3 linked regions of the Homo sapiens genome follow. The protein of the gene in region 3 interacts with the protein of the main gene of each other region in a biochemical or structural test. Each region holds a gene or a part of one and is shown on either strand. Other genes may lie near its edges.

Region 1 (7,921 bases), on a different chromosome or scaffold from region 3:
ATGAAGAGTGTGCACCCATCCCCAAACACATATAAACACACAGAGAGAGAGAGAGAGAGAGAAGAAAAGCTCTTTCACATAATTAGCAGGGCTTATCTCTGGGTGGTAGGTTTAAAGTTTTTTTTGAAACAGAATCTCACTCTGTCATCCAGGCTGAGTGCAACGGCATGGTTATAGCTCACTGCAGCCTCTAAGTCCAGGCTCAAGCAATCCTCCCACTTCAGCCTCCAGAGTAGCTGAGACTACAGGCACATGTCACCCACACCCAGCTAATTTTTTATTTTTGTAGAGACAGGATTTTGTCATGTTGCCCAGGCTGGTCTCAAACTCCTGGACACAAGTCATCCTCTTGCTTCGACCTCCCAAGTGCTGGGATTATAGGTGTGAGCCACCACCCCAGGTCTAAAGATTTTATTTTCTTCTTTTTGCTCACTTGCATTTTCTAAGTTTTCTACAATGAAAAAAGATGTGTGTAATTGGGAAGAAAAACAGGAAGTTTGAATAAAAACTGAAAAATCCTCTACTGAAGTGGGTAAAGCTGAGCCCTGCCTAGTGAGAAGGGGCTGCCCCCAGTCTTCAAGGGGCTGGGACTGCCCCCACTCTCTCATAGACTAGACCTTGGGCCACATGGCTGCCCATGCCTGGCCTTTGGTTCTGGAGAGACAATGTTTTTATCCATGAGTCAGTAAGAAAGGTCTGTATCAGACCTCTGGCCCAGACCAGATTCTGTCAGTAAGAAAGGTCTGGGCTGGGAGCGGTGGCTCACACCTGTAATCCCAGCACTTTGGGAGGCTGAGGCGGGCGGATCACAAGGTCAGGAGATCGAGACCATCCTGGCTAGCACAGTGAAACCCCGTCTCTACTAAAAATACAAAAAATTAGCCAGGCGTGGTGGCTGGCGCCTGTAGTCCCAGCTACTTGGGAGACTAAGGCAGGAGAATGGCGTGAACCCAGGAGGAGGAGCTTGCAGTGAGCCAAAATTGCGCCACTGCAGAAAACAAACAAACAAACAAACAAAGGTCTGTATCAGACCTGTGGCCCAGAACGGGTTCTGTTGTCCAACTTGCCCATGAAGGGAGGGTTTGCATCATTTTTCTGGAGGTGGAAACTAAGGTTTAGAGGGTGAGAGGGCTTGAGCAGGATGACAAAGGAAGTGAGGAGTGTCCAGGTTCAAGTTCTGACCCCAAAGCGCATGTCCTCCTGGCTTGGTCACGTTGCCTCTTGGGACTACACTCACTGGGCCCAGTGATGTGGAACTGGTAGTTGAGTCAGGCCCAGATCTCCCTAGGGCTTGGGATTTCAGGGTTCATCACTCCAGAGGGCAGTGAAGGACAACCCCTCGTGCCAGGGATAGGGGAGGCTGTTTTGGAAAAGCCTCACAATCAGGGCCTCTCCTCTGGGGTCCTCCCCTAGCCCAGCCCCAGGGGGAAGGAGGGAGGGCTGGGAAGCTTCTGGGGCTGGCAACCAGCTGGGCTCATCTGCAAGGCTGCAGTAGGGCAGGAGTGGTGGTGGCATAGATATATCTGTTTTGCCAACCCCAGGGTGGCCACGGGTTCCATGGACATGTCCATTCAGGCTGTGAGTCTAGGCATCTTGTTCCTGCGACCTTGGCCTCAGTTTCCTCATCAACCAAGTGCAACTTAGCTAGTGCTGCTAAAACTCCTGCACAGAAACCATGCAGGCAATTTGCTAGGGGCTTCCGTTTGCTCTATCTACAAAATGGAAGCAACGGGCCTCCTAATTGGCACTTGGTGCCACCATTGGCCCCAAACCCCTTCTCATCACAGCCAGGGTGATGCTCCAAAGATGGAAGCCGGTGCCACTGTTCTGCTCCGCCCTTTCCCTGGCCGACCAAGTCGGTTTGCGTCCTCCTCCTCCCTGACCTCACTCCTTTGCAAGCCTCTAACTCCTCACACTTAGGCCCTGCCTCGAGGCCTTTGCCCTTCCCTTGCCGTGGCCTGGAAAACATCTTTCCTTGCTGGTCCTGGGGGTGACCCTCAGGTCTCAGCTTAGAAGTCCCTGACCGCTCTACCCAAAGTAGCCACATCCCTGCCCTCCCCCAGCCTCGCTCCACCCAAGGTACAACTAAATACCCGTTTGGTTTCCCGGGAGATTTTTGTGTTCCCTAAAAGAGGGGGTACCCAGGTCTGTCTGTAAACCCTCGGTGCCTAAGACGGGGCCTGGCATTCGGTGGATGTCAGTGAATGAGTGCGGAGGCTGTGCCCGTCGCAGACCGGGAGAACCCGACACGAGGCGGGGGAAGGGCGCGAGGCAGCGCCCATGCGCATGCGCAAGAGCTCCGACGCCGAGCTGAACTCTCGGGCCGGAGGGAATGACCGTGAGTAACCTCGCAATTACGTCACGGCTGGGGCTGGGGCGGAGCTTCGGCGACGCCTGGGTCCCCAGCTTCAGCCGTGGCCATCACAGGGCTGGAGAGTCACCGGTCGGGCGGCACCCGGCCTGGGACGCGTAGAGGCGCACGTGTCCCGGCCCGGAGCCGCCAAGGGACCCCGGCCCGGCCCAGGAGCCCTCACCCACAAGCGCGCGGCCCGAGACGCTAGCGCGGGAACCAGGGAGGCTCGGTGAGGCTCGGGACACCGAGCTCAGAGACACCGGGAAGTCCCGCGCGAGCACAGCACGGAGCTGGCGCCCGTGGGGGAGACAAAGGCCAGGGAGACACCTGCGCGCCCCCTACTCGCGCCACCCGGCGCAGCTTCAAGCCCTGCCCGCCCTGACGCACCTTCGATGTCGGTCAGCAGCGCCGCGTCCAGATCGCACGGCTCGCCCAGCGCCTGCTCCAAAGCCGCCTCGCTGAAGGGTGGCTCGTCCATGGCGCAGCCGCCTCCTCCGGGAGGCCCGCCGGGCCCGCCGCCTCGTACGGCCCTTCCTAGGGAGCGCCGCCGCGGCCCCGGCTCTCAGTCGCCGCCGCCGCTCCGCGCGTTCGTGTCCTGCCCTGGCCTCAGAGGCGGCCCGGCGCCGGCGAAAAGTTCCTCGGAAACTGGGTTCCCCCGGCCGCAGCTCTGCTGGGCGGTCGAGGCGGAGGCGGGGCCTTTCGGGGAGGACCCGCCCTCCCAGATAGACGGCCCCGCCCCACCTTGAGAGAGCGGGGGACCCCTGATCCCCGGTCTGCGCCACAAATCTCCCCTCAGCCGGCCCCTCCTCCAGAGCGCCCTCCAGTCATTCATTTTATCCAGCCTCGCGCACAATGGCAGCGGCCTCTGGCCGGCTGCTGCGGGAACGCGGGCAAGCCGAGCCCCCTCTCTGGGCCTCTGTTTCTCCAGCACCAAGCAAGGAAGCCGAGTGGAAGCCCCAGGCCTGGGCCCATCCCAAACTTCATTTCCTCATTTCCTAGATTTGACTCTTTAGAACAAGACAGACCAGGATCCAAGTTATAGGGGTCCCAGGCCTGCTGTGTTGTGAGCAGGCCTGATGTAACTGCTGGGCCAGTTACATCACTCTGCCTCAATTTTCCTCATTTGTAACATGGGCCTAATGATGCTTTCTCACGGGCAGGCTGGGAGGCTAGTGACAATGTGGAGGGGAGCATGACCTGTGAGATCAGCCTGCCCCCTCTCTGCAAAGAAACCAGAAGATTGGCCTCTTGAGGACAGGAGTGGCCAAAGAAAGAGGCTGGAATTTCGTCATCTGGTTTCCTCCCAGATCCAGCTGTAGGGATAGGATACCAGTGGGCCCAGTGCAGCTCCTGAAGGAGGAAGCCAGTACCCAAGGAAGACTGGCCCCAGGGCTGTCTGACCCCAGATTTGGCACTTATTCCCAGGAGCAGCCAGGATAGGGGCCGCAAGGAAGAGGTAGCTGTGCTTTAGATCAGAGCCAGGCTGCCCTGGATCATCACAAGCTGGGACTAGATCAGAGCAGGCAGCCCTGTTGAGAAGAGGGCTGGAAACCGAACCTGGTTCTGTGGCCTAGGGACAGAGCCAGGTGGGGCAGGAAGGAGGGAAGGGGTCCCAATGAGGTGGGTTGAAATAAACCAGAATTAACATTCAGGAATCTGAATGTGATAAGGCAGTGAGCTCCCTGTCCCCAGAGGTATGCAAGCAGAGAGAAGCACCCTTGGTGGAGGGCAGTCCAGGAAACTCATCAGGGGCCTGGGCCTCAGGCCTTCCCGACCCCAGACCTTCATAAGTCAAGCCATCCTGCAGACTGCCTTGCTCAAACTCCAGATATAGCCTATCTGGCCACGCCCTAAGCAGGAGTAACATTCATGATGCATTTTAGAAGGGGTGTGTGGGGGAGAGAAGCCACAGAGCCCAAGTCCCTGGGGCTCAGCCTGGACATCCAGCTCCCTTTGTTCCTCTCCCAGAAGTGGCTGCGGTGGAAAATTACCCAGAATAGCGGCGCCAGAAGTCATAGGGGTCGCCAAACCACATCTCCCCAAGTAGCCCTGCTCAAGGGTCCACCCAGGACCCACTCCCTCCAGATGAACAACTGCTGGAGAACACAGAGAACAAAGCTGGCTTCTCCTCAGTGCCCCACCCCCACCAACACTCTAGAGGCTGCAGGAAGCTGGTGACTTCCCTGAAAATTTAAACAGCCCTTCCCAGGGAGGGGGTGGGATAGGAAGTGCTGGGTGAAGCCTAAATACCATTTTCTTCAGAGCTAGGCAGGTGATCTGGGTTTTCACCTGCTTGCTGTGTGACCTGGATCCAATACCTCACTTCTGAGTCTCAGCTACTGTATCTATAAAATGGGAATAACCCTTTCTGCAGTCCCTCTGCAGAGGCAGGGAGGGTGTTTTGGAGTCATCATCACAACAGATCTGCCTCACTGTTTTTTGTTTTGTTTTGTTTTGTTTTTTGTTTTGAGACAAAGTCTCTCTCTGTCACCCAGGCTGGAGTGCAGCGGCATGATCTCGGCTCACTGCGACCTCCACCTCCCAGGTTCAAGCAATTCTGTCTCAGCCTCCTGAGTAGCTGGGATTACAGGCGCACGCCACCATGCCAGGCTAATTTTTGTATTTTTAGTAGAGATGAGGTTTCACCATTTTGGCCAGGCTGGTCTTGAACTCCTGACCTTAGGTGATCCACCTACCTCGGCCCCCCCAAAGTGCTGGGATTGCAAGTGTGAGTCACTGCACCTGGCTATCACTGTTTTTGTTGTTGTTGTTGTTGTTGTTGTTGTTGTTTTTAAGACAGAGTCTCGCTCTGTTGCCCAGGCTGGAGTGCAGTGGCACAATCTTGGCTCACTGCAACGTCGGCCTCCCGGGTTCAAGCATTTCTTTTCCCTCAGCCTCCCGAGTAGATGGGATTACAGTCATGCACTACCACGCCCGGCTAATTTTTGTATTTTTAGTAGAGATGGGGTTTTGTCATGTTGGTCAGACTGGTTTCGAACTCCTAGCCTCCAGTAATCTACCCACTTCGGCTTCCCAAAGTGCTCGGATTACAGACGTGAGCTACTGCACCCAACCCGCCTCACCGTTTTTAAATGGGTTACCACATATGTAAATAGAATAGCTCAATAAATATTCACTCCATAACTGCAGGAGTTAGGGGAAAGGGAAAGAAGGTAAGACAAGGTCAACAGAAGACCTGCACCCCAGAAAATCCAACCCCCATGGGGCACAGTCCAACGTGGGGGTGGGAAGAATTTACATCTTTGCCACCAAAGAAACAAATCTTTGCCCCACAGCCTGGGATTACCAGGGCAACCCTCAACGTGAGGGTAGGGGAAAACAGAAGAGGGGATCCATTTTTCAGGGGGAACATGCTTGTCTTGGCAGTTTCTCTCCTCAAAGATCCTGAGACCTCCAAACAAGACCCTCGGGCCCCGGTTGGCTGGGGAGCGTTGAGCACGCCCAAGGAACGTGGACACAAGCCCCTCTGTAATGGTGTGCCTATCAGGGGTCAGGGATCCAGCCTGGTCCACGGTGACCCCGGCGGGCAGGTTCGGCACAGTTTACTTGCTGAGCGCTTACAGAGTGTTCAGTGCGGTTTAAACCCATTCACTCCTCTCGACAGCCTCAGGCGGTTGAGGCTGTTACCATCCCATTTTACAGATGAGTAAATTGAGGCACGTGGAGCGGGACGGTGAAGCGACTTGCTCAGGACCTCACAGCACTGCTGCCCCTGGTTTTGTCTGGACTGGAGGTAGCCGGAGAGCCGGGGCGGCTCCGCACGCGCGCGGGCCAGGGCAGCGGCTGGAGACCCAGGGGAGCCGGGGCGCAGAGCCAGACCAGCCCCGCCCCCGCGGGCCCGGCGCAGCCAATGGGCGCCCGGCCCGGAGTGGGGTGACGCGGCGTCAGCGCGTAACTCCCGGGAGCCCAGCCCTGGGTCACATGCGCCGCGCCCGCTCTACCCGGGAGGTAGGGAGGGGCGGCGGGGACAGGCTGGGCTCAGCCCCCAGTCCAGACACCTGGCCAGGAATGCCGCCAGGTGCGCGTCCCGGGCACCGGAAGGGCTAACACGGGACAGCCCCACCCGGGACTGCGTGGCGCGCCCAGAGCGGAGGATTCCTTCCAGGTCACCCAGCCCGGCCCCTGCCCGACCTCGGCGTTGCCAACTGGGAGATAGGAATTCGCATCTCCCCGCTTCCTCTCCAAGCCTCTTAGAGACTGAGAGGCAGCTTCTGTGGGTTTCGAGCCTTTTCGGGCAGGCGTCCAGCACGGGCAGGGCCTCTTCCAGGACGCTTGTCCTGTCCAGCCATGCCCTCGGTGCCCGGAGCTCAGCCGTGGATGGCAGGGCAGGCACTGGGCAGGAAAACTGGGTTGTCCACTCTAGCCATTGCCTAGGCTACTGAAACCCCTCCCCACTCCCAGAGCCCCCCTGCCCCCCTGCCCCCCTGCCTGGCCCTGCATATCCTTCACTGCTGTGGGAGCCAAGCTGGGACCTGCCCAGGTTATGGCAGAGGGGCCAGGCTGTGGGAAGAGACTGCTCAGAGCCTGAGTCTCCCCTCCCCCACTTCTCCATCTGTATATAATGGGGTCAGATGACTGTTGACATGGGTGATTCTGGTCCTAGATGACGCTCGTGGTCTCATTCCAGCTTGGGCTCTGTGGTGAGCTGGGCGAGTTCTTTCCAGCCCTCTCTGAGCCTCCATGGCCAGCTTTGCCCCTGGAGGCTCACACCCATGTGGGCACCTGCAGGCTTATCATGAGTCACTGAACACACCCTCTACCAAAGAGCTACTTGAACCCCAAAGATTGCTGCACAGTGAGGGGTGTAGCTCACAAAGGCTGAGGAAGACTGATACCTGTTCCCTGGGGGGTAACTGGCTGTTTGAGGAGAGGCCAATTGCATATTGAATGGGGTGAGTCTAGCCGGCAACAGGGAGAGTGAGGAAATCAATGTAATAAGGCCCCTGTGGGCATTGGGTTTACCACCCACTACACCAGTTTACCGATCAGGAGAGTAAAGAACAGAGTGAGACAGTGACTTACCCAACACCTACAGTTAAGCCTGCAACCCTAGGGAGGAATGGGGTGGACAGGAAATGGCACCAGACAATGGAGTCCACTCAATTTCCGGAAGCATCCTACTTACTCCCTAGTGCTGAGAGTAGAGATTTTGCGTCCTGGAATGTTGAGGGCCTGGGCTTGGAGGCCCTGGACAGACTCCTCTGAGGTCTGCCCCAAAAGCTCTGACAGGGACTCCTGTAAAATAAACTGATGGCATTTCTGGGTGGGTCATGCAGACCTGTCCAAGGCCTCAGGTTCTGCCCTCCCGCTGCCCCCAGGACCCAAAGGAGACCTTTTTCTTGGAAAAACCACAGGCTCCCACAATGCTTCCCTCAAGTGTGCAGCTTGAGTGCCCTGGGGCTCAGCTATGTGCTCAGAGCCTCCTCTCCTGCAGGCCCTGGAAGAGAGCTACAACACTTAACTGGCTGCAGAGTGTCCTTGACTCTGGGAATAGAACCAGGCTGCACATTCCCCAAGGGCAGGACTGGAGCAGCCCTGTCCCTCCCC
Region 2 (7,477 bases), on a different chromosome or scaffold from region 3:
TGTCTCTGAGTGACACTTTTTAAAATTTTCACTTCGATGTGTTTTTTAAAAGATTAGAGCAAAACTAGTGATTTTTATATATTTATCTGATAGCCAATAATTTACCAGATTCTCATATTATTCTATACTTTTTTTTTAAGGGGCTGGGCAGTGGCTCAACTCGAGGCAGATCACCCACCCACTTCCAAGATCCAACTATAAGCTTTTTAACTGCAGCAACTTAAGTATACGCTACTAGAACTGGAATTAATCATTCTATACTTAAAACAAAAAACCCTAGGGTCTCCTGGATTTCTGGGACATGCAATTGTCATCAGTAAGAAGGAATTTCAAAATAAAGGACTCCACCTTTTCTAAAATTTATGCCAATTACTTGATTTCCTTGTCTTGTTAAATCCTCCTAAATTGTGTGGGACATTACTAACCACAGCAAGCATCTGTGTCTGGTTCTTGATTTTTAGTGAAATGGCTTTTAGTGTTTTGTTGTTTAGAATGATAGTTGCTGTTAGTTTTCTTTAGTTGAGGTATACATAATAAAATTTAACCTTTTAAAGTGTACAGTTTGATGAGTTTTAACAACTACTGATATCAAGATCAAGAGCATTTCTGTCACCCCAAAAAGTTCCCTGGTACTCCTTTGCAGACATTCTTTTATATCTTTACTTCAGTTTAAATAAGATACTTGCACTTATGCTGTAACTCCATTGTTAATATTTGCACAAGGCTGGGCACAGGGGCTCACGCCTGTCATCCCAGCACTTTGGGAGGCGGAGGCAGGCTTGAGCCCAGGAGTTTGAGAACAGCCTGGACAACATAGGGAGACCCCATCTTTACAAAAGAAAAAAACCTCAACTTTGTTCATAATAAGCTCAAAGTATCCCTTTTTTTTTTCTTTTTTTTTTTTCTGAGACCGAGTCTCGCTGTCACCCAGGCTGGAGTGCAGTGGTGTGATCTCGGTTCACTGCAACTTCCACCTCCAGAGTTCAAGTGATTCTCCTGCCTCAGCCTCCTGTGCAGCTGGAATTACAGGTGCTTACCACCACACCTGGCTAACTTTTGTATTTTTTAAGTAGAGATGGTGTTTCACCATGTTGGCCAAGCTGGTCTCAAACTCCTGACCTCAAGTGATCAGCCCACCTCGGTCTCCCAAAGTGCTGGGATTACATGCCACTGTGCCAGGCCTACAAAAAAAAGTTTTAAGTTAGCCAGATGTTGGTGGCACATGCCTGCGGTCCAGCTACTCAAGAGGCTGAGATGGGAGGACTGCTTGAGCCCAGAAGGTCGGGCCTACAGTAAGCCATGATCCTGCCACTGCATTCCAGCCTGGGTAACAGAGCAAGACCCTGGCTCAAAAAAATATATTTTTAAAATTTAAATTTAAAAATTAAAAAAAACACATTTGCACAAGTTCTATATAAACAGAAACCATATCTATATTACTCACCCCTGTATTTCTAGCACCTAGCATAATTCCTGGCACATACTAGGCCCTCAACATTTGCTGAAATGATGAGTTAATTAATGAATAAACCAATCAACCAACCAACCAATTCACCTTGGAGCTTGGCTCTATTCCTTAATGTTCCCTGATGCCAATTGCTTTCTTGCCTTGGTCTCCCCAGTCTGCCTTCCCCCTGACTCCCCACTGCTGGACTACACCTGCCTACTAGAGAGCTATCCAGTGCCCTTAACTGCATTCCTTTACCTATTGGTTTTTCCTTCCGAGTTTAACTACAAAGTGGGGTGCTATCTAGTGGGGTTAGCTTTGCTCAAGGAGAAGCTTAACAACAACAACAACAACAGTAGCTGTTTCCAGCAATACATAGAGAAAAGCTAAAATTAGGACAAGGGAATCCGATACAAAGGCAGGAAACTTAATAACTATCTGGAGTGTTAGTTCTGGAGGAGCTAGGCCAAGATGGGAACTAGGTCAAAAGTCAGAAGAGGTGAAGAGACCACAGCGAGAAACAACAAAGCTGGGAATTAACTAAGCGGCCTATTCTCTTTACAAGGTACTCAGCCGGAGAGCCAATCTTTTTTTTTTTTTTTTTGAGATGGAATTTTTGCTCTTGTTACCCAGGCTGGAGTGCAGTGGCGTGATCTGGGCTCACTGCAACCGCCGCCTCCTGGGTTCAAGCGATTCTCCAGCCTCAGCCTCCAGAGTAGCTGGGATTACCGGCATGCGGCACCACGCCCAGCTAATTTTTGTGTTTTTAGTAGAGACGGGGTTTCGCCATGTTGGCCAGGCTGGTATTGAACCCCTGACCTCAGGTGATCCGCCCACCTCAGCCTCCCAAAGTGCTGGGATTACAGGCATGAGCCACCGCTCCCAGCCCAGAGAGCCAATCTTCAAGGGACAGAGTTGATCAGACAACGGCCCGCCATCTTATGCCAGCCTACCATCTTGTGCTCTGTCTGCCTCATGAATTCCCATCATCATCTGCAGAAACGTCTACCCACAAGCAGTGGCTCTGTTTTGAAGGATATGTCTCTGTCTCAGTTCTCTCCAGGTGCAGCACCAACTCCCCACCACTCACTAGTTAAGGTGGCATTTGCAGTTTCAGAACTGGTTGCTTACTTATTCAGAATTGGAGGAAAAGGTCAAGAAGTTGAGCTGTGAAATGCAGAAAAAAAAGTGAAGAAACTCAGTTTTCTCTCAAAACAAAAAATAAAGGAGTTAAAATATACAAAAATGCAACTGAAATCTCTGAATGTAATTCACACTCTAGTATGCTCTTTTAAAAAAAGATGAAAGCACAGAAGCATACATAAAGCATTCTTTGTAAGCTACTCTTTGCTTACTAATAACAAATGTAGGTAAATTGGGCAGATGTAAATAAGGCACCACCACAACACGTGAGCGCCAACCACAGAGCCAAGATCCGCACACTAAATACGGGAAGTTGTAAAAGACTGTGACAGACTGTCACTAAAAAACTTGTCTTCAGGAATTCGGACGATTATCTGAAAAGATATTCAAAGTTCAATTTTGTTGGAGGAAGCAATAAGGAAGTGGGGTGTCTATGTCAGAGACGGGCGCGGGTATGCGAGGGGGTAACGTATAGAGTAGGTTAAAGAGACGTAGAAAATATTTCCAAAGGCACAAGTTTAGCATGAGGGACTTCCCTCACAGGAAAGACACCTGGTGTTTTATATGTCCTTCTGAGCACAGACAGGGTATTTCTATGAAGTTACAAAGCTGCAATCCCGTTCTCATGTGCAGCACCACAGGTTTTGCTTTCAAATATCTGCAGGTGCATCCTCCTGCACTCGTTAAACTAAGGGTTTTCCTTTTCTGTGCTAGACCCGCTTTTACGACCACGCTCTCCACCTGATTCACAGAAAGGGTTCTACGACCGTCAGGTCACCGCCGCCTTTGTACTTTATTGGGGAGTCGAAGGCCTCAGCGCTGCTCGCGATTTCCCTAAGGTGGTCGGGAAGGTCCCAACCACGTTCTTCTGTAAACCAGATAAGGAAGGCCTGGGGATTCCGGCCGCGGAAAGGCACAGAGGAGGTGAACGCTCCGGCTGCCCAAGTGACGCACTTGTAGGCGGATTCGGAAACTCGTGCTCTTGAGCCGGAGGCGGAGCCCCCAGACTCAGACCGACCCCCCAGAACCGGGCGGCCTTGCCCGAGGCATGAAGGCTTTCTAGGCCCGCTTCTAAAAGCTGTGTACAATGGAGACTCCTGGAATAGGCACATATCTCTACTGTAATCAGAACGAGATGTAACATCTAAGACGCAGGGCAGGGCTCTGGCAAAGACACGCTGGGGGAACGTGAAAGAAAGGGCCAAAACTACGCAGCTGGTCCTCAGAGACCAAAGACTACGACCCCCAGCATTCAATGCAGTGAACCCCTAGGACGTTGCATGCCGGGAGCTGTAGTTTCTCACCACCGCCACCCCCCCGCCCCCCCGCCATCTGAAAGGGTTCTAGGGGATTTGCAACCTCTCTCGTGTGTTTCTTCTTTCCGAGAAGCGCCGCCACACGAGAAAGCTGGCCGCGAAAGTCGTGCTGGAATCACTTCCAACGAAACCCCAGGCATAGATGGGAAAGGGTGAAGAACACGTTGCCATGGCTACCGTTTCCCCGGTCACGGAATAAACGCTCTCTAGGATCCGGAAGTAGTTCCGCCGCGACCTCTCTAAAAGGATGGATGTGTTCTCTGCTTACATTCATTGGACGTTTTCCCTTAGAGGCCAAGGCCGCCCAGGCAAAGGGGCGGTCCCACGTGTGAGGGGCCCGCGGAGCCATTTGATTGGAGAAAAGCTGCAAACCCTGACCAATCGGAAGGAGCCACGCTTCGGGCATCGGTCACCGCACCTGGACAGCTCCGATTGGTGGACTTCCGCCCCCCCTCACGAATCCTCATTGGGTGCCGTGGGTGCGTGGTGCGGCGCGATTGGTGGGTTCATGTTTCCCGTCCCCCGCCCGCGGGAAGTGGGGGTGAAAAGCGGCCCGACCTGCTTGCGGTGTAGTGGGCGGACCGCGCGGCTGGAGGTGTGAGGATCCGAACCCAGGGGTGGGGGGTGGAGGCGGCTCCTGCGATCGAAGGGGACTTGAGACTCACCGGCCGCACGCCATGAGGGCCCTGTGGGTGCTGGGCCTCTGCTGCGTCCTGCTGACCTTCGGTGAGTGATTCTGGAGGAGCAGACGTCCCCCCTCCACACACGCGGCCGCTTCTCGAAGGTCCTGGGGGCGTTGAACGTGGGAGGGGGGATCCCGGGGCCTGCGGTGGGCCAAGGGACGTCACCATTCCTCGAAAGAGGGCAAGGGAATTACGTTTATTCTCTTCTTCCTCTGGAAATAAAAAAAGAGAGCAACATCATCTAACTGCCCTACAGATCTAATAGTATCTCGCCCGGAGGTCTCAGCGACCTCGGGGTGGGGCCTCTCTGAGGCTCTGGCTCCCCCGGGAGCTGTGCGAGTCCCTCCCCCCTCCCCGCCCGGAGGACTTTTTCGGCCACCGCAACCTTCGGCCATCCCAGCTTTCCCGTCCCCTAATTCCCCAGACTCCGACTCCTCGCAAGCCCGTGTCCCTTCTTAGATGCTGGCCTCGGGAGCGTGAGGCCTGGGGCCAGCGGAATGGCAGTGTCAGCGTGTTTGATTCAGTTTTGCTGGAGTTCGGTTCTTAACATTTCTCCCCCTTCTCATGCCTCTGGGCTCAATTTCAGTTCCCCTCGCCAGAGGTTGCATAAATCCTATTTGCATTCTGACCTGTGCTAACGAAGGCCGAAGTTTTGGCTTGATCAGTTGGGAGGCCTTGGCTCGGCCTGCGCGCAACACGTGTGGGTGTAGAAGAGGCCTGGTATCAGTCTGCTTAACGTTATTTATAAATGATCGGAGACACACTGTTTAGAAGTGGTGACTGCCTCCGTATTTCAGGATCTACTGGAGACTTCAGCATCTGAACTTAAATAGATGTTCTGTCTTGGCTTTACCTTTGGTATTTAAACCAGGGAATGCACTCTTTCATCCCCACCTCCCTTAGTTACCAACTGAATTTTGCAACCCCTACCCTTCCCTATTTGATCATCCTCCTTGGAGAAGTGTGATGTTGAAGAGTTTGCCCGTGTTAAATCTTCAGGGTCGGTCAGAGCTGACGATGAAGTTGATGTGGATGGTACAGTAGAAGAGGATCTGGGTAAAAGTAGAGAAGGATCAAGGACGGATGATGAAGTAGTACAGAGGTTTGTGTTCATTTGAACTTACGTATACAGATAAGCCGTGTGAACCTTGTGAGTTACGGTCACTTCTTATGTATCTCTTCTCCAAAGGTCCAGATAAAGTCTAACACCCTGTATTTAAATACCCGGTGAGTTGTGTGCATACATACCTCCTAACTTGTCCCTAGGAGTGATGAAAACTGAGTGAATTCCTTTGAAAACTATATTGCAGAATACTAGCACCATAAACTTTGTAAGACTTTATAGAAGATACTTTCAGTTGGATTTGTATTCATTAACTGTGTACACCGAGTAAGTTTAAAAATGGGATTTCTGTCAGTTGAACAATATTTTAAAATTTGGCCTCTTGGGACTTATTGACAGTTTTGAAGTCCTCACTGTGGAGCATAAATGAGTATGACTTTGCTTTTTAGTAGAGGAAAGTTGGGATTTTTTTTTTTCTGGCAATTTTAAGAACCGAGTATTTCCAGTGTAATGTTAAAGGTAGCCTACTGCTGTGCTAACATAATGAGACGGTATATCAGTTATATTTTATAAAGGTTTCCATTTTAACCCCCAAGACAATATTCAGAGGCCCCTGTGCTTTCATCATAATTCCTCTAGTTTTGAAGGGAACTATGCCATGCAATATTTGCTTACCTAACTGATTTCCTTAGAGAGGAAGAAGCTATTCAGTTGGATGGATTAAATGCATCACAAATAAGAGAACTTAGAGAGAAGTCGGAAAAGTTTGCCTTCCAAGCCGAAGTTAACAGAATGATGAAACTTATCATCAATTCATTGTATAAAAATAAAGAGGTAAGCAACATGTGGTTAGAATATTTTATCTCTGTATGGTGGCATACTTGTTTACTTAAATTTGCTTAATTTACTGCAAAAGTAATGTAGTATCCAAGTAAGTAGGTAACAACCTTTAAATACCTAATATGTCCAAGAATTGCTACCAGATATCTGGGAAGAAAGGGAGTGTCAGACATTTTCCTTTTCCTTTACCTCTAAATAGGTTCACGGCCTGATAATAGTTGTGAGTCTAAGGGCAGTCACATAAACTAAACTTCTTGCATTGCATACCTGAAGATCACTGTTAGGTGAATAAGAGTGCTTTTATAAGGTACAGAGAAGAAATAAATGGGTTTGGCATAAAATCGAATATCTTAATGCATCTTGAGGATAGTCTAAGTGTATTCCCTCTGGCTTCCATTTAGATTTTCCTGAGAGAACTGATTTCAAATGCTTCTGATGCTTTAGATAAGATAAGGCTAATATCACTGACTGATGAAAATGCTCTTTCTGGAAATGAGGAACTAACAGTCAAAATTAAGGTAAGTGTAAGGCAGTTTTTCTTTCTTTTAAAGGAAAAGGAATCCTTAAAGGTAGAGGATCCCTATCAGTCAAGATAGGCTAGATTATTTTGCAGTGGCAAAAAAACCCCAAGTCTCAGTGGCTTGAAAGTCATCAAACTATGGCCAAATCTAACTTGACTTGTTTTTCTAAGTAGTTTTATTGGAATGCAGCCATGCCCATTTGTTTATTATCTGTGACTGCTTCTGTGCTTCAACAGCAGAGTCAAGTTGTTTTAACAGAGAACATAAATCTCCCAAAGCCTAAAATATTTACTGTGTGGCCCTTTACAGAAAAAGTTTGCCAGCCCCTGGCTTAAATCATTGATCACAGGCTGCCTGTGGTCTTTGCTCTGCCTCATCCTCAGGCTGGGACAGAGGCGTGGGCAGCCACCTGGAGTGTGTAGCCGGTTGCCATGGTGCAGAGCAAGCTTAGAGGGTCTCATACT
Region 3 (7,492 bases):
GGATTTCAGGTGTTAAGCCACCGTGCCCAGCCACAAATCACTTTATGATGCTGTTTAATTATATGAATCCTATGAGGTCTTCTATAAGGTCTCTAATAGTGTATGTGACTAGGATAGAACTGGTGTCAGAAACAAAACCCAAAAACAGAAACTTTCGTATGTCTTCTAAAATTCCACTAAGGAAGATGTGTCTTTCACTTAAGATCCCAAGTCACAAAGCCCATAATCACTTTTTTTTTTTTTTTTTTGAGATGGAGTGTCACTTTGTCACCCAGGCTGGAGTGCAGTGGCACGATCTTGGCTCACTGCAACTTCCGTCTCCTGGGTTCAAGCAATTCTCCTGCCTCAGCCTCCAGAGTAGCTGGGATTACAGGCGTGTACCACCTTGCCCAGTTAATTTTTTGTATTTTTAGTAGAGACAGGGTTTCACCATGTTGGCCAGGCTGGTCTTGAACTCCTGATGACAAGTGATCCACCTGCCTCAGCCTCCCAAAGTGCTGGGATTACAGGTGTGAGCCACTGCGCCCAACCTCCATATTCACTTTTGATGACACGTTGAGTACTTTCTTTCTCTGACATGATACTGAGTACTTTATTTCTCATTTACATCTTACCACAAAAACTACTGGATTTCATCATTTTTGTCATTTTTACTTATGAGGAATTCAAGCCTTAAAAAAGCCAAGCATTACTTTGCCACCAAGAAGGAGGCAAAGTACAAATGGAAGCCCTGAGCTTTCTGACCTCAAATCCTAGGCTCTTAACCACCCTGCTACCCTGCCTTCATTCTTACCATGATCTCATAATTTGTGCTTATATAGGCTGCATTCAGCAACCCAAACTGACTGGTTTCCTCAGGAAAACTGTCAGAGCTACAACCAGTGCATTGAGAGGATCCGATGGACTATGTAATTTTATGGACTGAATGATATGAAAGGCCTCAGGAAATGTGTATCCAACACTTTGGCAGGTGTAAAAGAAGACCTACATATTTCAAAGCAGTTACAGATGCAAAATACGTCCATAGAAATATATGTTCCACACACTTGGAAGGCTAAGGCAGGAGGATCGCTTGAGCCCAGGAGTTCGACACCAGCCTGGGCAACATGGTGATATACTGTCCCTACAAAAAAATACAAAAATTAGCTGGGCCTCATGGCTCACACCTGTAATCCCAGCACTCTGGGAGGTCGAGGTGGGTGGATCACCTGAGGTCAGGAGTTTGAGACCATCCTGGCCAACATGGTGAAACCCCATCTTTACTAAAAATACAAAAATTAGCTGGGCGTGGTGGTGGGTGCCCGTAATCCCAGCTACTTGGGAGGCTGACATAGAAGAATCACTTGAACCCGGGAGGTGGAGGTTGCAGTGAACCGAGATCATGCCACTGCACTCCAGCCTGGGTGACAGAGTGAGACCTTGTCAAGAAAGAAAGAAGAAAGAAAAGAGAAAGAAGGAAAGAAGGAAAGGAAGGAAGGAAGGAAGGAAGGAAGGAAGGAGAGGGGGAAGGGAGGGGAGGGGCGAGGGGAGGAGGGGAGGGGAGAGGAGAGGAGAGGAAAGGAGAGGGAGAAAAAGAGAGAGAGAGAGAGAAAGAGAGAGAGAGAGAAGATGGGGAAGGTCCCTTCTGGGTTTCCATCTAAAATCAAAGAAGAAATCATTGGTTTCAATAATAATATTTTAAAATCCACCCTATGATTTTTTTTTCTTTAAAAGAAAAATATCAATCTAAGAAAATAATACCTAACATGGTGTTAATGAAAAGTAGGTTGGATTGGTTATGTGTACATAAGAACTTAAAGCTCAAAGGAAAAACAGCACGTATACCAGCATGTTGACCTGGCTCCGCTGACAGCCAGGATTACCAGTTATTTCACTTGGTGTGTACCAGTGCTACTTGGAAACTACCCACCTTCCATGAGCAGGTCTACTCAATAAAATCTTACTTTCATGAGGCTGTGAGGATATCCAAATGGGGACATTTCTTATACTCAGAAGACCACAAGTCACGAATGTGGCCACTTCTGATTCTGACTTCAGGGGTCACCCAGACCCCAAGCCACCCCAACCCGATAAAGGCAAGTTCACCTTGGGCAAAGTTCAGAGCCAGCAGCACAGCTGAAAGGCAGTGGACAGCACTTTCAGATGCTGTATTCCAACATTTCAACTGACATGAAGTGAGGCAAGAGGGGAAATAACTAACAGTAATCTGATTAAAAAACAAAAGAGAAAAAAAAAAGGGCCTGGTGTGGTGGCTCATGCCTGTAATCCCAGCACTTTGGGAGGCCGAGGCGGGTGAATCACCTGAGGTCAGGAGTTCGAGACCAGCCTGGCCAACATGGCAAAACCCCATCTCTACTAAAAATACAAAAATTAGCCGGGCATGGTGGCACGTACCTGTAATCCCAGCTACTAGGGGGGCTGAGGCAGGAGGATTGCTTGAACCTGGGAGGCGGAGGTTGCAGTGAGCCAAGATTGTACCACTGCAGTCCAGCCTGGGCAATGGAGCAAGACTCTGTCATTAAAAAAAAAAAAAAAAAAAGGACTGGCCTGGGTTTACAGGTAGCTCACACCTGTAATCTGAGCACTTGGGGAGGCTGAGGCAGGAGGACTGCTTGAACCCAGGAGACCAACCTGGGCAATACAGCAACACACTGTCTCTACAAAACATTTAAAAAATTAGCTGGGTGTGGTGGTACACATCTGTAGTCCTAGTTACTCAGGAGGCTGAGGCAGGAGGATTGCTTAAGTCCATGAGTCTGAGGTTGCAGTGAGCTATGACTGTGCCACTCCATTCCAGCCTGGGTGACAGAGTGAGATCCCATCTCTAAATAAATTAATAGACCATAAATTCTGTAATGTGAATCTTTAGACAAAGACTGCTAAATCTATCATCTGATATATGAAGTTTTATTACAACAAATGTTTATATATTGAGTTAAAAATTATCTGTACCCATACACACAACCTGCATTTACTTAATTTAAAAGGAGTGTCAATATTAAAATTGAGGATTTTGGCCAGGTGCGGTGGCTCACGCCTATAATTCCAGCACTTTGGGAGGCCGGGTAGATCATTTGAGGTCACAAGTTTGAGACCAGCCTGGCCAACACGGTGAAACCCCGTCTTGACTAAAAATGCAAAAATTAGCCGGGCATGGTGGTGTGCCCCTGTAATCCCAGCTACTGGGGAGGCTGAGGCGGGAGAATTGCTTGAACCCGGGAGACAGAAGCTGCAGTGAGCCGAGATCGTGCCACTGCACTCCAGCCTGGGCAACAGAGCGAGAACCCATCTCAAAAAAAAAAAATTGTTATTTTGTTGTTATTGTTGTTTTTGAAGACAGAGTCTCACTCTGTTGCCCAGGCTGGAGTGCGGTGGCATGATCTTGGATTGTGTTCTTCCAGGGTTGCAGAGAGAAGTGCAACAGCGTCTCATTGCAACCTCTGCCTCCCAGGTTCAAGCAATTCTCCCGCCTCAGCCTCCCAAGTAGCTGGGATTACAGGAGTGCACCATCACACCCAGCTAATTTTTGCATTTTTAGTAGAGATGGAGGTTTCACCATGTTGGCCAGGCTGGTCTCGAACTCCTGACCTCAGGTGATCCGCCTGCCTTGGCTTCCCAAAGTGCTGGGATTACAGGTGTGAGCCACCATGCCCAGCCTAAGAATAATAACTTTATAACTATGAAAAATGTGTTACATATTCACCATTTTGCCAGCATTAATCTCAAAGCATAAGTTTTACCTTTTGGGGATAAAGAGATAGATTGTGTTTTAGCCATATGACCAATGTAGAAACAAGCTAAGGTTAACTCCTCATCTAATGAATAGGCCCGATAAAAAAGTTGGTTGACCACAACATGAATAAATAAATAACCATAAGCTTGGAAATGCTACCTGTAGTATTTCAGAGTGTCGATCACATTTGTAGTCATCACTTAAAGAATTAATGTCTGCCAATGTTATCATCTAAAATGTATTTACAGAGGTCAGAAGAGCTATGTCTGTCCTCCTCTATGCAAAGAGGTGATGACATCAAGGGGTATGTCACAAGCCAAAGTTTAGTTAGCCTAAGTTAGTTAGCTGGTTTGCAGTTTTTATCCACTAAGTCTGATCTTCTGACCCCTCAGTTTTACAACTTTCCACTCTCTGTGCTGCATAGCACCTCTCCACTTCTGAGTTAATCATTTCTTTGCCATTATCTGGCAAGAATTCTTATCTCTTTTGCTGTCACTTTATAACAGGGTCCTCTTATCAACCTGCATAGAGTCATGTGATGAGTCAAAGCCTATCAAAAGTTTCCATTCTTCTGATTAGAAACCATCATGAAACTGGATACATGGTTTACAGCAGGTCACTAATGTTGGAAAAAGTACAGAGTCCAGGGAAAGACTTGCTTGTAACTTTATGAATTCTGGATTTTTTTTTTTCCTTTGCTTTTTCTTAACTTTCACTAAGGGTTACTGTAGTCTGATGTGTCCTTCCCAAGGCCACGAAATTTGACAAGCTGCACTTTTCTTTTGCTCAATGATTTCTGCTTTAAGCCAAAGAACTGCCTATAATTTCACTAAGAATGTCTTCTAATTCAGATACTGGGGATTTACAAGAGTCTTTAAAGCACGGACTTACACCTATTGGTAAGTAGGAGTTTCTCTATTGATCATCTATTTATTCTGCTACTACATACATATAATTTAATCTTGTTGATGGATTTTGCATTTTAAGTCATGGCTTTTCCTATTATGTTTATTAAAAGCACACAATAAGCCTATGTATATATATCACACATTTATCTTTCTTGCAGTTCAAAAAAAGCAAATGGATATTTCAACATATGAATATTATTCATTATATCTAGTGTTTACTGGTGTCATTCTAATACCCTAATCAGCCAGAAAATATAATTTATACTTTATCAATTTCAACTTTAATATTTTCTGATAATTTTTAATCAGAAATAATAAGCTAAAATTTGAACAATTTGAAACAAGTTAATCATATTGAGTGATCATTGATCAAACTTTAACAGATAGCTGTCAAGTATTTGTTACTTTTCAACCCACACAAAAGTATGGTGTCTTATTCTCTGCTTATACCGTAAAAAATTTTCATTTTATTTTCCTGGGGAATGAAAGTCATGCCCCCACCTCCAAAAAAAAAAAAAAAAAACCAAAAAAACTAGACCATCATTAGTAAAGGATTTGAAGAGCTACTGTTTCTCGCAACAATTAGTATATTTTGTTTTTACAAACAGAAATAAGTAAATAAAGCTACTATTCATTTAAAAAATAGAGTTACAAACTTATGAATTTTATAGCAAGACTACATTCAATTAATTCTAAAAGTAAAGGACTGAAGGGAAGTGATTCCCAGTGATCTGTAATTATTTGTCTGTTGGAAGTCAGGCCCTTCTGCCTTTCCCCAGTTTTTGAAGGACCTGTGCCTTTTCTGGCAGCATTTGCCTAGGCTTTCAGACTGGAATTTCCCTCCGAATTTGCAGGGGCCTGTCATGAGCTCTCTGAGTCTCAGCTCCATTATAACAAGAAAGAAAATCAAGGCTTGAGTTTTTCCTCTTTTTTCCTTCCTAGTCAGCTGACTCCACAGAATGCAGTGGAGTCACAGATTGCTTTTTTTATGGGCCAACTACACCCTAAAGTATATCACTTGAGGAAATGTTTACCAAAAATGTTCTATACTTACGAAAAAGAAAACATGGGGAAGGTAAGCAGGGTGTAACACACAATCAATTGTTCTGCAGATAACACAGAAAATACAGGCACAAGAAAGATGAGAGAGCAGCACACAACCATTTCGCATCTTTTTCGTCGGGCAGAACCGCCGCGGTGCGCAGGCAAGGAGTCCTTCCCGGCAGCTCCGCGCAGCTCCGGTTCCGCGTCCGGGGCCGCAGCTAGAGCGCGCTCGGGCCGGAGACGCGGACTGCGCGCGCACGGGGGACGCGCGCTCGGGGGCTCGCGCCCGCGCGGGCGGTCTTGGGCTCCTGCTGCGCGCAGCCCCAGCTGGCCGCTGCCAAAATAGAGTTGAGCTGGGTCGGGAGACCACGCACGCCGATCCCTCACAGTCTCCCCCACACCCCATGGGTGAATTAAAGAGGGTAAGGTAGGGGAAAGAGACGCTGTTGCACTTTTCTCTGCAACCCTGGAAGAACTGTGTTTCCAGCTACCGCACGCGCAACTCACATCGCAAGGGACCGAGGCGGTACACTCTGAGCGTAAACAGAGAACACCTGCAGCTCTGGAATCGGTCCCACCGCAGAGGGCTGGGAACCGGAGGACTGTCGGTCCAGCCCATAAGGGGCTGCTGGGGACTAAACCTCAAGAAAAGTACCGAAGAAGGCTCTCCCCTGGCCTCAGCGAGACTACCCCAACATCCTAAACCTGTGCAGGCACTTCCGGGCGCCGGATTCCGGGATAACAAAATTCCAGTCAATTTGCCGGTAAAAGAGACCTCTTTCAGGATCTTGTTCGCAGCCACCCGCCCCTTCCCAACCCAAGCACATCCCCTCCGCCTCCTGGTATTGCAGCCCCGCAGGTGGTTGTGAGGTGTCCGCACCTGCAACATCTTAGTGACCCTGAGGCGGCTGTGGCACCGGGAGACAATCTGTTTACCTCGTAGCCTCCACGAGGGTGCTAACGGTCGTTCCCAGGGTGAATGGCTGGACGGAGCCATCCAAAGGGCTGAGGGAGAGGAACAGAGGGCGGTGAGGAGCCTTCGGACTGAACTATTGGATTGAAGGGCCTGACCCGATTCCTGAGGGAGAGATGCCCCTTGAATGGGTCTTTCTGATTGCCCAGGGTAGCCCCACTGGGAAGAACCCACGGGTGCAGCTGTAGAGAGTGTCTGAGGGTCTCGAGGGTAGCTTTCAGATGGCAAATTGCAAGTTGGGCTGTGTTGAGTGGTTCACAAAACCGAGCCCGGTGTATGTAGACATCAGTCAGGGTTTACAATTCTATATTTAATTCAGTTGTGTTGTACTAGGAAATGAGCCTCCTTTTGTTTAAAAAGCTGTCTCCATGGTTTTTAACTAGGGGCTACATCTTGTATGCACACTGATGGTTACATGAAAGTTTTGTATAGATGTCTGTGCTTGTATAGAAAAGCAGAATTAAGATAAAGTTGTTCCTTCTGCCTACCTGCAAGATAATCATTCATTGTAGTGTAAAAGCAGCACACTCAGGTTATAACTAGATTGTTCCCTTAAAGTTAACTAACTCTGGGACACTGGCCAGACTCTTGGTTTCTGGTCTTGGTTTACTTCTTTCTCCCAAGTGGGATGATTCTATTGAATAATATGCAGTACTAACTTTAGAAGCTTTTTATACTTACCTATATCAAGAAAAGAGCCATATCTGTGTGGTAGGAAATGTTATACATAAAACAAATATTTATTGACCACTCCCACAGTGCCCAATATTATGCTTTGATTCATATTAAATTTCCATAATTCTTCAAATTAACTGCATTTGCAGAATATTTTAT

What was found.
Region 1: the proteins of NR5A2 (region 3) and SREBF1 form a complex in vitro, tested with the Homo sapiens proteins (one study listed by BioGRID).
Region 2: the proteins of NR5A2 (region 3) and HSP90B1 form a complex in vitro, tested with the Homo sapiens proteins (one study listed by BioGRID).

What each region holds. Positions count from the first base shown.
Region 1 is NC_000017.11:17,833,987-17,841,907, forward strand, and holds the start of SREBF1 (sterol regulatory element-binding protein 1), read right to left. Parts: upstream 3,001-7,921; 5' UTR 2,832-3,000; coding exon 2,741-2,831; intron 1-2,740.
Region 2 is NC_000012.12:103,925,933-103,933,409, forward strand, and holds the start of HSP90B1 (endoplasmin precursor), read left to right. Parts: upstream 1-4,477; 5' UTR 4,478-4,583; coding exon 4,584-4,632; intron 4,633-5,588; coding exon 5,589-5,691; intron 5,692-6,344; coding exon 6,345-6,486; intron 6,487-6,893; coding exon 6,894-7,010; intron 7,011-7,477.
Region 3 is NC_000001.11:200,023,280-200,030,771, forward strand, and holds the start of NR5A2 (nuclear receptor subfamily 5 group A member 2), read left to right. Parts: upstream 1-4,430; 5' UTR 4,431-4,568; coding exon 4,569-4,632; intron 4,633-7,492. UniProt on the Homo sapiens protein: Orphan nuclear receptor that binds DNA as a monomer to the 5'-TCAAGGCCA-3' sequence and controls expression of target genes: regulates key biological processes, such as early embryonic development, cholesterol and bile acid synthesis pathways, as well as liver and pancreas morphogenesis.